Linked DNA regions of Homo sapiens. The protein of the gene in region 1 purifies or fractionates together with the protein of each later gene. This does not show direct contact. Each region holds a gene or a part of one and is shown on either strand. Other genes may lie near its edges.

Region 1 (3,214 bases):
TGAGGTGATCCACCCACCTCAGCCTCCCAAACTGCTGGGATTACAGGCGCAAGCCACTGTGCCCGGCCCTATAACCAATGTTTTTAATTGTATCCCTCTAGAGAGAGTGAGCAGAGGTGTCTGTGTATGTCTGTATTGTGCTTTGTGTTTTACAGAACATTAACTCTTTATAAAGCATATATTTCTAACCTAGGAAAATATCAAATGGAAAAGGGATGGGAATACCTTTGATATGTACATTCAGCAGAACTATGTGCTGCCGGGTACAGTTGCATGAACATATACACATCTCCACTTCCTGTGGGAGGAAATTTTAAGAAGAAAATTTTCTTTAGGAATCAGTGCTCCCCCAGGCCTTATTTACAATGTCTGGCTTACTGTCAACCTGTGAGTCTGTCCACCAACCCTACAGGACCTCATATCCCTCCCTTCTCAAATGCCTACCTCTTCCCTTCCCTTCTCCCCCACCATCAGAAAACAGGCATAGATATATGCAGCCATCAGCTTCTCAAACTTGATTTTATTGTAATCATCACCGTTGGTGGTGAGGATTTGTCCAATTTGGTTTCTCCATGTTTAATTAGTCTTCCTCACCCTCCTCTGACGATCCTTCAGATGAGTCTGGGTCTTCTTCCTCCATCAAAGATCCTTCAGATGAGTCTAGGTCTTCATCCTCTTGTGAAGATCCTTCAGATAACCCTAGGTCTTCATCCTCCTGTGAAGATCCTTCAGGTAATTGTAGGTCTTCATCCTGCTTTGAAGATTCTGCAGATGAGTCTAGGTCTTCGTCCTCCTGTGAGGATCCTTCGTCCTCCTCCTCTTGGACTGGATTGATGGAGTTCTCTCAGGACTGGTCATTCTCGAGTTGATTTGAATGTATTTTCTTAGTCTTCCTGTAGCACAACACTAATACTGTTGAATATTCTGATGTTTTCATCTTTTTCAAACTCGGTTCGAGGACTAAGTCCCTGTTTGGTGTCTCCTGCATCTGTTAAGAAAACAGGGAGAGGCCAGAAAGACATTATTTTGGGTGAATAGGATAGAGACTGGATAGCAAGGGGGGCTTTATGAGAAGGAATGCAGGTTGAGGAAGGGGTTCGATCCAGAGAAGAACAAGGTTGACTCACAGGGTAGGGATCTATGGGGAAGAAGAGGAGCATGGGTAGGGTCATCTGTTAGTCCAAACTGCACCATTTTGTAAGTTCTTTGCTATTTTGCAGACCTTGGTCAAAGTGAAACATCCCATGGGGGTTCAGGCCGTGAGAAACATCCTGCCTAACCACCTGTCCACAAGGCAGACAAAGGCCCAACTAAAGAAACATCCCTATCATATCTTGCTTGGCAAAGTTCTAAGGAACACCACAACGATATTCCACCAGAAAAAGGGCCAAACCACCTGATCATAAGAACATCTTATCAATATCCTGCTGGGCAGCAAGCCATGCTGCCCAGATCCCTCCCACCCATACCTGTAAGTACCCCAGGCTGTAAGCGGTGGTGGGATCTGGCATTAAGCTGGTCCCCCACTTCCACAAGCGTCTGCAGTATTCCTGTGTTGCTGTTTGAGCTGCCCCCTCTCTGTGTGTCTTTCTTTCACCCTCGCCTTCACTTCAAAACCTAACAATCTTACCTCATCATTTTTGCTGTTGGAGTCACAGGGGCTCTTCCTCTTCTCCCCATTGGTGCTTGAAGTGGGCTTTTCCATGATTCTGGTTGGTTGTTGAATGTCTACAGCAGGATCTTGTAGAGTCCAGACTTCCACAGCTATATTGAAGCTTCCCAGTGGCCCAGAGCTCTTGCCCTCCCTATATATACCCTCCTGGTGACAAGGCAAAGCCACACCCTTGAGCTTTGTTTGATCATACAGGCAGTGTCCCAGCCAATGGCAGTCCAAGGGTGGCTTAGACATCACAAAGCACCACTGCTGACCACTCCCTGGGCTTGTGGGGGAGGGGTGACAGGGGTGTAGAGGAAACCAAATGCTGCTGTTGTTTCAGCATCCCCTGAAGACGCATCCCAAACTGATCTGCTGCCGCTCCTCATTTCTCCATGTTTAATGTTCATGGTTCACATGGAAGTGAGAGGTTGATTCTGTCAAGCCCTTCCCCACAGCCATTCCTATTAAGTGATTCATTCTTTTGTCTTCCAGCCCTCACCATGACTTAGTATTTTAGATGTCTCACCTCAAATCCCCCAAGCTAGTGTGGCTACATTTAATTATTGGTGGAGATGTGAATTATCCCATTTCCCTCTTACAGTTCCTTCATATGCACCTTGAAGACCATTTACTCTTGGGCTACTGCCAGGCAAATTTCAACCCATGTTCTTTTACCCAATGTCCATGTAGTTCTTTTAAGTTTCCTATTTCCAATCTGAAACAATGGCCTCAGTCTGTCAAAACTTTAGTGAATTAACATTCTTTACCTTGCATCCTAGTCTTGTTTCAAATCAGGGGTGTATGTTCATAGTAAATGTAGTATCCCAACATGAATTCTACCAGTATGTGGGGTGGGGGAAGGAGTAAATATTCAAGTGCTGGAAGTTGTCCTGAGTATTTACCTGCAGGATACTGCAATCTAAGACTAATATGTGCAAGAATGTGGGCATAGCTAAGCTTTGCACTGGAGATTGTGTCCAGTGACAAAAAAAAATGCATTCAGATTGGAAGGGAGAAGTAAAAGTATCTTTTGTCAAAGACTACATGAGAGTGTATGTAGAAAATCAATCTAAAAAAAATGCTTCTACAATAATTGAGGTTAGCAAGATTGCAGAGTAAGCGATCAACATATAAATCAATTGTATGTTTATCTAGTAGAAGTTATATATTAGAAATTTGCATCCAGTTTTCACCTATAGTCATCATGTCAATATGAATAATGACACATTTTTCACCGGAAAGTATTCCCATTTGTATAATTAATTAAATGGTAATATAAGTTTTAAGGTATCACTATCATTATTGGCATTAAGACGTGAAAGAGTTATACATCATAAGCAGTGAGGCAAAGAAAAAGACATGGAGAGGGAAACAAAATCGGAGAGTAACACATCTGGAAAGCTAAATATTTGCTTCTAAAAGTGACTGTTTTTGGCTGGGCGCAGTGGCTCACGCCTGTAATCCCAGCACTTTGGGAGGCCGAGGCAGGCAGATCACCAGGTCAAGAGATCAAGACCATCCTGGCTAACACGATGAAACCCCGTCTCTACTAAAAAT
Region 2 (3,500 bases), on another chromosome or scaffold:
CCAGGCTGGTCTGAGCTGGTCTCAACTCAAGCAATCCACGCAGAGGTCCTGCTAGTCCTTTTTTAAAAAATATATTCATAGTGGAAGGAAATATAATGTAAATAATTATAATTACATAATTATAATGTGTAATTTATTTTCTTCCATTATAAATATTAAAGATATAGAAAATTTATAATTTTTTATATCTTTAATATTTATAATGGAAGGAAAGGCTCAGTTCCAATTAGAAGTTTACAAGAATAAAGTCGTAATTTCTTTCCTGTCAAATTTCATAGACCACTTGAGTTCTGCTCTTGGACTCCTGGGTTTTGTGGACCCCAGATTAAGAACCCTTTCTTTTCTTTTTCTTTTTCTTTCTTTTTCTTTCTTTTTTTTTTTTTTTGAGACAGAGTGTTACTCTGTTGCCCAGGCTAGAGTGCATGATCTCACTGCAACCTCCACTTCCTGGGTTCAAGTGATTCTCCTGCCTCAGCCTCCCCACTAGCTGGGATTACAGGTGTGCACCACCATACCTGGCTAATTTTTGTATTTTTAGTAGAGATGAGGTTTCACCATGCTGGCCAGGCTGGTCTCGAACTCCTGACCTCAGGCGATCCACCCGCTTCGGCCTCCCAAAATGCTGGGATTATGGGCAGCAGCCACCACGCCCGGCCTAGGAACCCTTTCATTAGAGTTACTCTAAACTGTGGAAGCCCCAGTGACTGTTATTGATTTCATTAAATAACAGACTTTTTAAAAAAGTATTTAATTTTTAAAAATATATTGTGAAGGGGTAACGTATTCCAATTGTTCTGCCTGCAAAAGCATGCATATTAAAAAATCTCCCTCCAGCGTCTGTCCCTCCTGAGGCGACAGCATTACCAGTTTTTTGTCTTCCAACTGAGATGTTCTGTACATATACAAGATATGTGGATACATTTATAGTCTTTCTTTTGTTTTTGTTTTTTGAGATGGAGTTTCACTCTTGTCCAGGCTGGAGTGCAGTAGCACAATCTCGGGTCACTGCAGCCTCTACCTCCCGGGTTCAAGCGATTCTCCTGCCTCAGCCTCCAGAGTAGCTGGGAATACAGGCGCGTGCCACCGCACCTGGCTAATTTTTGTATTTTTAGTAGAGACAGGGTTTTGCCATGTTAGCCAGGCTGGTCTTGAACTCCTGACCTCAAGTGATCCACCCACCTCGGCCTCCCAAAGTGCTGGGATGACAGGCGTGAGCTACTGTGCCTGACCTATAGCCTTTCTCTTTTACACAGTTCAGTAGCACACACTCTGTGATATTCTGCCCTTTGTTTGAAATAACAGCATACCTTAGAAACTGCCCAAGAGCTAATTTATGTAGACCAGCGGGTACAATTTTATAAGCTTCCACAGTTGTTTCACGGAATTATGTCATCACCTTAAAACAATTTTTCACTAACCTTTAAACTTAACTCCAAAAAAACCCATTTCAGGTCCTCAGTCTATTCCTCATATTAGATGAAAAACAGTCTTCTTATGGTAAAGGAGGCCTCTTATCTTTTTCTCTGATTTGGAGCTTTTATTCTGCACCAGTAAATCTCACCAGCAAATTATTTTGGTTCATAAAAACAGGAGTTTCTTTTTGAAGGGGAAATTCATGTTTCTGTTTTTTTTTTTCTTTCTTTCTTAAAGAAAGGGTTTTATGTGTGTTTAGATCTCTGCACAACCAATCACCTCAACAAGTGTTTGGATTTCTGTTCCAGGAGCAGCTGACAGACGAAGAAAAGTGCTGGACAGGAAGGGAGAATTCTGACGCCAACATGCAGCGAAGTATCATGTGAGCACCCTCCCTTGCCCCTGAGTCTTTCCTTCTCCAAGTCCTCTGTTTCTTTCTCTAAATCTGTACTTAAAAAAACAAACAAACAAACAAAAACTCTTACGTTAGATTTTGAGTTGGAATTTCCAGGAGTCAAGTAGTATGGAAAATGAGCCGTGGGATATGGAAGACAGTGTATTGAACAACAGTTTTTAGTTGCAAGGAGCAGAAACCCTAACGCAGTGGTTCTCAGTCAGCAGCAATTTTGCTCCCCAGGGAACATCTGGCAGCGTCTGGAGATTTTTTTTTTTTGAGTTGGAGTCTTGCTCTGTCACCCAGGCTGGAGTACAGTGGCGCAATCTCGGCTCACTGCAACCTCCGCCTCATGAGTTCAAGTGATTCTCCTGCCTCAGCCTCCTGAGTAGCTGGGATTATAGGCACGTGCCACCACGCCTGGCTAATTTTTGTATTTTTAGTAGAGACGGGGTTTCACCACGTTGGTCAGGCTGGTCTCAAACTCCTGACCTCGTGATCCGCCCACCTCGGCCTCCCAGAGTGCTGGGATTTCAGGCGTGAGCCACGGCGCCCGGCCAGTGTCTGGAGATATTTTTGGTTGTTACAACCTAGGGACAGAGGGTTTGCCATTGGCATCTAGTGGCTAAAAGCCAGGCATGCTGCTAAACATCCTTCAATTCATAGGACAGCCCCCCCAACAACACAGAACCATCAGGCCCAACATGTCAATAGTGTCTAGGTTGAGAAACCTCGTGTTAATGCAGTCCGGCTTCAGGAAGACAAGAAAGGGCATGACTTGACTTATATCATTGAAACCTGCTGGAGTAAACAGCCTCAGGCTTGGTTCGATCCAGTTGCCAAAACTTCCTCCCTGGGAATCTGTCTCTCTCCATTGTTCAGCTCTACTGTCCTTGAGGTTGTCCTCACCCTCAGGCGGGCTCTCCCCTCTTAGCGGTCCCCTTGGAAAGAGGGTGTTAGAGCCCAGTTTCACTGGCCCAGCCTGGGCCACATACCTATCCCTGAACCAGCCACAGGGATGCAGCCTGGATCACGTGTCCACCCCTGGTCACAGGCAAAAGGGCCAGCCCACTCAAATCGTGTGTACTGAGAGAATGTGGGGTAAGAAGCATCCCAAGAGGAAAACGGAGGGGCTGTTACCAGGAGGAAAAAATGGATGGTAGAGAGACCCAGACAAGGGCATCCATCCCAGAAACCTGGGCGGTAGTGGCTTACACAAATGCTGGGTTCCGTTTTTCTCCCGTGATGAGGAATCTGGGGATTGTCTCTCCAGGGCTGATGGTGCCTTCGATTGCTTTCTGTCCACTGGCTTTTGCATGATTTTTCCTTTTCTTTTTGAAGATTAAATAAACCTCTTATTCTGGAATAATTTTAGAGGTACAGGAAAGTTGCAAAGACAGTACAGAGAGGTCCTGTATACCCTTGGCCAGTTTCCATTGTCAATATCATACATTACTATGATCCGTTTCTCACCACTGAGATACTAATGTCAGTACATTACTCTTAACTGAACTCCATACTTTATTATTCAGATTTCACCAGATTTTTTTTTTAATGTTCACGCCTTCCAACATTTTTTTTTTTTTTTTTTTTGAGACAGAGTCTTGCTCTGTCGCCCAGGCTGGAGTGCAGTGGCGCGATCTTGGCTCACTGTAAGCTCTGCCTCCCAGGTTCAGGCCATTCCCCTGCCTCA
Region 3 (3,500 bases), on another chromosome or scaffold:
ATATATTTTCCAACTTTGATACAGTTAATATTTATTTATTTATCTATCTTTGAAATGGGGTCTCACTCTGTGGCCCAGGCTTAGGCTCACTTCAGCTTCCACTTCCTGGGCTCAAGCCATCCTTCCACCTCAGCTGCCCAAGTAGCTGGGACCACAGGTGCATGCCACCACACCTGGCTAATTTTTTTGTATTGTTAGTAGAGAGGGGATTTCACCTTGTTGCCCAGGCTAGTCTCGAGCTCGTCAGCTCAAGCAATACACCCGCCTGAGTCTCCCAAAGTGCTGGGATTACAGGTGTGAGCCACCACGCCCAGGCAGTTAATTTTTTTATGTGCTAAGAGGCTTCTCTATTAATTTGCTTGTGAATGGGTGTGTGTGTGTGTATTTAAATTTTTAATGGTTCTGCATTAATGTTTCTGCATTCCTGCCATATAGGTTGTACTTTTTTTTTCCAGTTTGTTTGCCTTTTAATTTTATGATTTATTTTATACAAAAATTTAAATTTTCAGATATTCACATCTATCAATCTTCTTTTTCAAAAAGTTTATTGATTAACTGTATATGTGTATAATTTACATACCATAAAATGCACGTTTTGAAATTGTACAATTCAGTGATTTTTGGTAAATTTCCAGAGGCATACAACCATCATCACAGTAGTTTTAGAACATTTTTAGCACCCCAAAAAGATCTCTCATGCCTCTTTACATTTAGTTTTCTTTCCTGCCCCAGCCAAGATCTCCACTCATCTGCTTCAGTCTTTTAAAGCTTTTATTCTTAGAAAGGAGTCTTGAGCACTTATGTGGAACCAAGTGATGTGGCTATAACAGATACTAATGCTATTTTCTTCTTCTTCTTTTTTTTTTTTTTTGAGATGGAGTCTTGCTCTGTCACCCAGGCTGGAGTGCAGTGGTGTGATCTCGGCTCACTGTAACCTCTACCTCCCGGGTTCAGGTGATTCTCCTGCTTCAGCCTCCTGAGTAGCTGGGATTACAGATGCCCGCCACCACGCCCAGCTAGTTTTTGTATTTTTAGTAGAAACAGGGTTTTACCTTGTTGGCCAGGTTGGTCTCGAGCTCCTGACATCAGATGATCCAGCTGCCTCGGCCTCCCAAAGTGCTGGGATTACAGGTGTAAGCCACCGCTCCAGGCCACTAGTACTATCTTCTTTTAGGAGCTTGTGATCTTACAGGACAGATTATTAAACTAATAATAGTTTAAATAAATATAGTTACAAATAGATAAGTGCTACAAAAGAGAAGTAAAGCGTGGGGAGTGATAACAGAGGGCACCTATTTGAGGGTGGAGATTCAGGAAAGGTTTCCTTTTTTTTTTTATTATACTTTAAGTTTTAGGGTACATGTGCACATTGTGCAGGTTAGTTACATATGTATACATGTGCCATGCTGGTGCGCTGCACCCACTAACTCATCATCTAGCTTTAGGTATATCTCCTGATGCTATCCCTCCCCCTCCCCCCACCCCACAACAGTCCCCAGAGTGTAATATTCCCCTTCCTGTGTCCATGTGATCTCATTGTTCAATTCCCACCTATGAGTGAGAATATGCGGTGTTTGGTTTTTTGTTCTTGCGATAGTTTACTGAGAATGATGATTTCCAGTTTCATCCATGTCCAGGAAAGGTTTCTATAAGAAAATGACCCAGGGATGGGAAGGACCATCCAGGTGTGGAGTTGGGGGAGGAGCCTGGGGGAAGTATTTAAGAGCTGGACACTTGAGGACTGCAGGAATAGAAGCACATATGGTCAGAGAGAAAGGGGACATGATCTGAGTGGGAAAAAAATGGAATATTTTCCCATGCCATTATTTTCTTTTTATGCTGTTTTTTATGTCAAGGTATTTACAGATGATATTTATGTGGTTATATGTTTTTCCTGGTCTATAGGGTTATAATTTCCCCATATTAAATATATCTTATGCAGTGTTGAGACCCAGTGTATGTTGAATAAGGGCAGCAGAATTTTAATGGGGGGTGGGCAGGCGTTTGTGCATATGAGTGCATTATTTTCAGTATTCCTTTCTTAGTCCCAGAGGGGAGTGTGTTCAGAAACAGAGTTCTTGGGAATTACCATACTTTTCTTTATTGTTTTATACTAAGGACCATTCAGAGAGTACTGGAGGTGTTAAGACAGTGTGAAGAAATTACCTTCTTCATCACTTCTTCATCATTGCTTTGAGTATACTGGGGCCTCAGGGACTTGCTAAGAAAGTAACCAGTATAGTGATAGAATTAGAGTTGCTGCTCATGGCTTCAGAATATTTGGTCTCTGCTTACAGGATTGCATTGCTTTCTTCATAAGCTATGTAAATAGAAAGTACGATATCACTGTTTCTGTTTTCCAATGGGGATAACTAAAATATGGAAACTCAATCCTTAATGGATCCCTGACAATCTCAATGACAATCCATAGTGGTATGCCACATGACTCTTCTCTTTGTCACTTTCAATTCATGGTCAACACCTCAGATAGGCATTTTGAGAAGCAGGGCAGTCCTACCACACTTACCTAGTAAAGTCATTTTTTCACATTCAGACTTGACTCATTCATTTTTCTTCTGCATACTTCCTCCCACTTTCTGCATGTCTTCTATAATATCTCCTGCACTCTGCCTCATTCAGAACAGGCTAGATTATGCTATAGTAACTGATAACTCTCAAATCTCAGTGGCTCCACACAATAATATTTCTTGTCCATTTTATGTATCATTTGTGGGTTGGCACAGAGTCACTACCCATTAAAGTAGCTCAGAGATCCAAGCAGCCACCAGCTGGTTGCTGTGGCAGAGGGGTGCAGAGTATGCTGGAGGGTCTTGCAGTGACAATGACATGTTCCAGGCTGGAAGGGATGGCCATCATTTTTCACTGGACAGAAGTAATCCCATGTTTCATCCATCCTGAGGGGACCAGGAAGTGTAATTTTACACTGGGCCCAAAAAGCTGGGTGGCAGAGGAGGAATCCAGAACTATTTGGCAAACAGCTCTAATGACCAGCATACATTCTTAGCTAGTGATTCACCTTAACTTCATTGAGAAAGTCAGAGCATTCTCTAACTACCACCCCTCCAAAAGAAACCCTAGAACGTACTCATCTGCCTACTATTATTACATTTATCATCCTATCTGAATTCATACCTTCTTTTTCCTTCTAGCCTATTCCAATATAAGAAGTATCTTCTCTCCTATCCACATATTTTTGATCACATACTCTTATCAGTAGATAAGCACATACAGTGACATCCTAGAAAGTGTTTAACAAGTGGCCTGTAGGGGGAAAGAACCAGCCTTGATTTTTAGTGTTTTTTGATTTCCGCAGTGTAAATACTCTCACTGTGGACAGTTTCAAGCCACCGTCACGGTGTTACTGAATGTGCAGTTGGAAAGAGATGCACACAGTGGGCTCTCATGAGCCAGTGTGGACTGACTCCAGCACACCACCAGTAGTGTGCTGGTGGTAGTACTCATGTACTCGTGTCTGTTTT
Region 4 (3,500 bases), on another chromosome or scaffold:
AGAAGTATCCAGCCTCAAATGTCAATAGTGCCAAGATTGAGAAGCCCTGATCTGTGGTATTTATCATATTCATACCTTTGGTTTGTTGGTTTTATAAGACTGGTCCCCACAGTCCTATCCTTGGGCAGAAATTACTCTCATTGCATTATGGTGTTTGCTTTTTCTCAAAAGTTTAAGTTTTCTGGCTTACTGTGTCTCTCTCTGTGTGACAGGCACACATCCATAGTTGTGCACAAGGATGAGTTCTTCTTCGGCAGTGGTGGTATCTCCAGCTGCCCCCCGGTGAGTGTCTTCCCCTACACTCTGTCCTGCAGTCTCAGGTTCCTGGGGGCTCCTGTAGACCAGGAGCTTTGCTTCTACTATGGACTTCTGGCATTGTTCCTCAAAGCCACCTGAAGACTTGGCTCAATAAAACCTTTCCCAGACACCCCAGCCAGTTCCTCTCCTCTCTGTTCCCATGGCACGTGTGGGTCCTTCTGTCTCACAGAGAGCATGTTATGGTGAAATGAGCTGTTTCTGGTTCTCCACAGGGAACTGTGTAAGCTCCTTGCGAGCTGAGACCTTCCATCTCCATCCCCTGCACAGTGTCCGGCTCATCCTAGGAACGCAACTGATGTTAAGCTGAATGATGAGGGCTCTGAGAAGCATCAAGACTTGCCCAAACTTAAACAGCCAATAAGGGACACCAGTCCTAGAACCCAGGATTATCACACTAAAGCCCACACCCTTTTCCGAAAATTTCTTTTTTTTTTTTTTTTTTTTTTTTTTTTGAGATGGAGTCTCGCTCCGTCGCCCAGACTGAAGTGCAGTGGTGCGATCTCGGCTCACTGCAAGCTCCGCCTCCCGGGTTCGCGCCATTCTCCTGCCTCAGCCTCCCGAGTAGCTGGGATTACAGGTGCCTGCCACTACACCCAGCTAATTTTTTGTATATTTTAGTAGATACGGTGTTTCAGCATGTTGGCCAGGCTGATCTCAAACTTCTGACCTCGTGATTAGCCCACCTCGGCCTCCCAAAGTGCTGGGATTACAGGCGTGAGCCACAGCGCCCAGCCTTTTCCAAAAATTTCTATCAGCTATCCAAGTGTTGTCACAGTAGGTGCTCAAGCAATGGCCAAGCAGCCATTCATTTTGGTTGTGTGTTTGTTTGTTTTTGCTACATCCTACAGGAAGGATTTTTTTTTTTTTTTTGAGACGGGGTCTTGCTCTGTCACCCAGGCCAGAAATGCAGTGGCACAGTCTTGCTTACTGCAGCCTCCACCTCCCAGGCTCAATGAATCCTCCCACTTGAGCCACCTGAGTGGCTAGGACTCAGCACCACCACGCCCTGCTATTTTTTTCTATTTTTTTAGAGATAGGATCTCCCTATGTTGCCCAGACTGATCTCAAACTCCTGGGCTCAAGCAATCTACTGCATAAGCCAGAATTCTCCCATTGCTTTTGGAATAAAAGCCAGAAAACTCAGCATGGCCTCCCAGGACCTACCTGATCTGGTCTCTGACTCTGACTCTGGCCAGCCTCTTTTAGGTTGTTCCCTCCCAACCCTCACTCTCTTCTCATTCTTTGAACACACCGTAGACATTGAAACCTGCACTCTGACATCAGTACACCTTCTTGATCCTTCACCTGGTTACGCCTCTCCATCCTTCAGATTTGAGTTGTGTCACTTTCTCAGGCAAGTCTTCCCTGATCCCTCAGACCGGGAAGGTCTCCTGTCATACGTACTGTTGGCATTCTGTACTTTTCCAGCCTCCCCTTAATTGCAGCTCATAATTATATACTGGTTAAGGGGATTTTTCAGTTTCCCTTCCCTGCTACACTAAGCTTCTTAACGGCAAGAATCTCATCTATTTTGTCCACACCACAGCCCCAGTGCCTAGCATAAGGCCTGACACATAATAAGTTCTCAATCCATAGTTGTTATATGAGTGAATAAGAGGGGTCAAAGAGTGACCTTTTAGTTTCTTACAACTCTGAGATAATTGTTCTCTGCCTACCATGGTTATCTTGCTCACCATGCTTTCCTCAGTGCCCAGAACAATGTCAGCTATGTAGGAGGTGCTCAGTGGCTATGAATGAATGATCTTTTCAGGGAGCTCTGTTCTGGAGTGTTATCCCTTCCCAGATTTGTTCTCCTGCTGATCCCGTTGCTTCCCCAGTGGCTGGTTTCCCCACTCAACCTCAGTCTCTCCTTCAGTTTTCTCTGGCAGTCTGTTAACCACATGGCTGAGGGTTTTCTGTAGGCCTTTCGGGAGCCATTAACTCCCTTGCCCTATGATGGTGATAGGGCAAGGATTAGGCTCACAGATCCAAAAAGAACTGAATTATGGAAATATCTGCCAGCCTGCCAGATTTCTCACCGTCCTCGTTTTTCCATTATTACACGGGATATCAAGTATATCATAAGAAAAACTGGCTGCATACTTTATGCAAATAGGCATGGAGAGATGGCCTGTGAAGTGTGAGCCATTTCTGTTGTCCTGTTCTGTCCTCATGATGAGACATACTGGGGACAAAAGTAGACTTCAGATTCTGGGTTTCTCTTTCTCAGCTGAGTAAGTGGACAGCATCAGGAGTCAGAGCTGCAAGAGAATCAGCTTCCCAGGGCCCCCCCTCCCCTCTAGAAACAAGAAGTCCGACTCCTAACTATGCTGCCAGCACATGGCAATGAAAAGTGACCAGAAAGCTCTAAGCCAAGCTTGTCCAACCTGCAGCCTGTGGGCCATACGCAGCCCAGGACAGCTTTGAAAGTGGCCTGACGTGAATTTGTAAAGTTTCTTAAAACATGAGATTTTTTTATCTTTTTTTTTTTTTAAGCTCATCAGCTATCATTAGTGTTAGTGTATTTTGTGTGTGGCCCAAGACCATTCTTCTTCCAGTGTGCCTCAGGGAAGCCAAAGGATTGGACACCAATGCTTCTAAGCTATTGCATCCTTGATACAAATAGCAAATCACATTCTTCATCTGCCCAGGGTGCTCTGCAAGTTAAATATGAAGTCAGGCTGGGCGCAGTAGCTCACACCTGTGATCTCAGCACTTTGGAAGGCCGAGGTGGGTGGATCACTTAAGGTCAGGAGTTTGAGACCAGCCTGACCAACATGGTGAAACCCTGTATCTACTAAAAATACAAAAAATTATCTGGGCATGGTGGCAGGCACCTGTAATCTCAGCTACTTGGGAGGCTGAGGCAGGAGGATCACTTGAACCCGGGAGGCGGAGGTTGCAGTGAGCTGAGATTATACTCCAGCCTGGGTGACGAGAGAAACTCCGTCTAAAAAAAAAAAAAAAAAAAAAAAGTCAGAACAGAGTGTTTGTGGTCTACTGTGGGAAGCCACATTAAAACATTCAGTGGAGATGGTAACTTAATGACTTCCTTTGGGTTGGCTCTTTTAGGGAGGGACATTGCTTGGGCCTCCAGACTCTGTGGTTGATGTGGGGAGTACAGAAGTCACAGAAGAAATCTTTCTGGAGTACCTCTCCTCCCTGGGGGAGTCCCTGTTCCG

The links. Proteins that work in one complex are often made in the same cells at the same time.
Region 2: the proteins of SPANXN5 (region 1) and LIG1 purify together in Homo sapiens (affinity purification with mass spectrometry; one large-scale study listed by BioGRID and IntAct). This does not show direct contact.
Region 3: the proteins of SPANXN5 (region 1) and FTO purify together in Homo sapiens (affinity purification with mass spectrometry; one large-scale study listed by BioGRID and IntAct). This does not show direct contact.
Region 4: the proteins of SPANXN5 (region 1) and DESI1 purify together in Homo sapiens (affinity purification with mass spectrometry; one large-scale study listed by BioGRID and IntAct). This does not show direct contact.

The regions. Positions count from the first base shown.
Region 1 is NC_000023.11:52,795,644-52,798,857, forward strand, and holds SPANXN5 (sperm protein associated with the nucleus on the X chromosome N5), read right to left. Parts: upstream 1,785-3,214; 5' UTR 1,706-1,784; coding exon 1,631-1,705; intron 989-1,630; coding exon 845-988; 3' UTR 501-844; downstream 1-500.
Region 2 is NC_000019.10:48,163,845-48,167,344, reverse strand, and holds part of LIG1 (DNA ligase 1), read left to right. Parts: intron 1-1,721; 5' UTR 1,722-1,778; coding exon 1,779-1,795; intron 1,796-3,500.
Region 3 is NC_000016.10:53,819,156-53,822,655, forward strand, and holds part of FTO (alpha-ketoglutarate-dependent dioxygenase FTO), read left to right. Parts: intron 1-3,500.
Region 4 is NC_000022.11:41,604,044-41,607,543, reverse strand, and holds part of DESI1 (desumoylating isopeptidase 1), read left to right. Parts: exon of another isoform or gene 1-18; coding exon of another isoform or gene 19-56; intron 57-212; coding exon 213-282; intron 283-3,390; coding exon 3,391-3,500. UniProt on the Homo sapiens protein: Protease which deconjugates SUMO1, SUMO2 and SUMO3 from some substrate proteins. Has isopeptidase but not SUMO-processing activity. Desumoylates ZBTB46. Collaborates with UBQLN4 in the export of ubiquitinated proteins from the nucleus to the cytoplasm.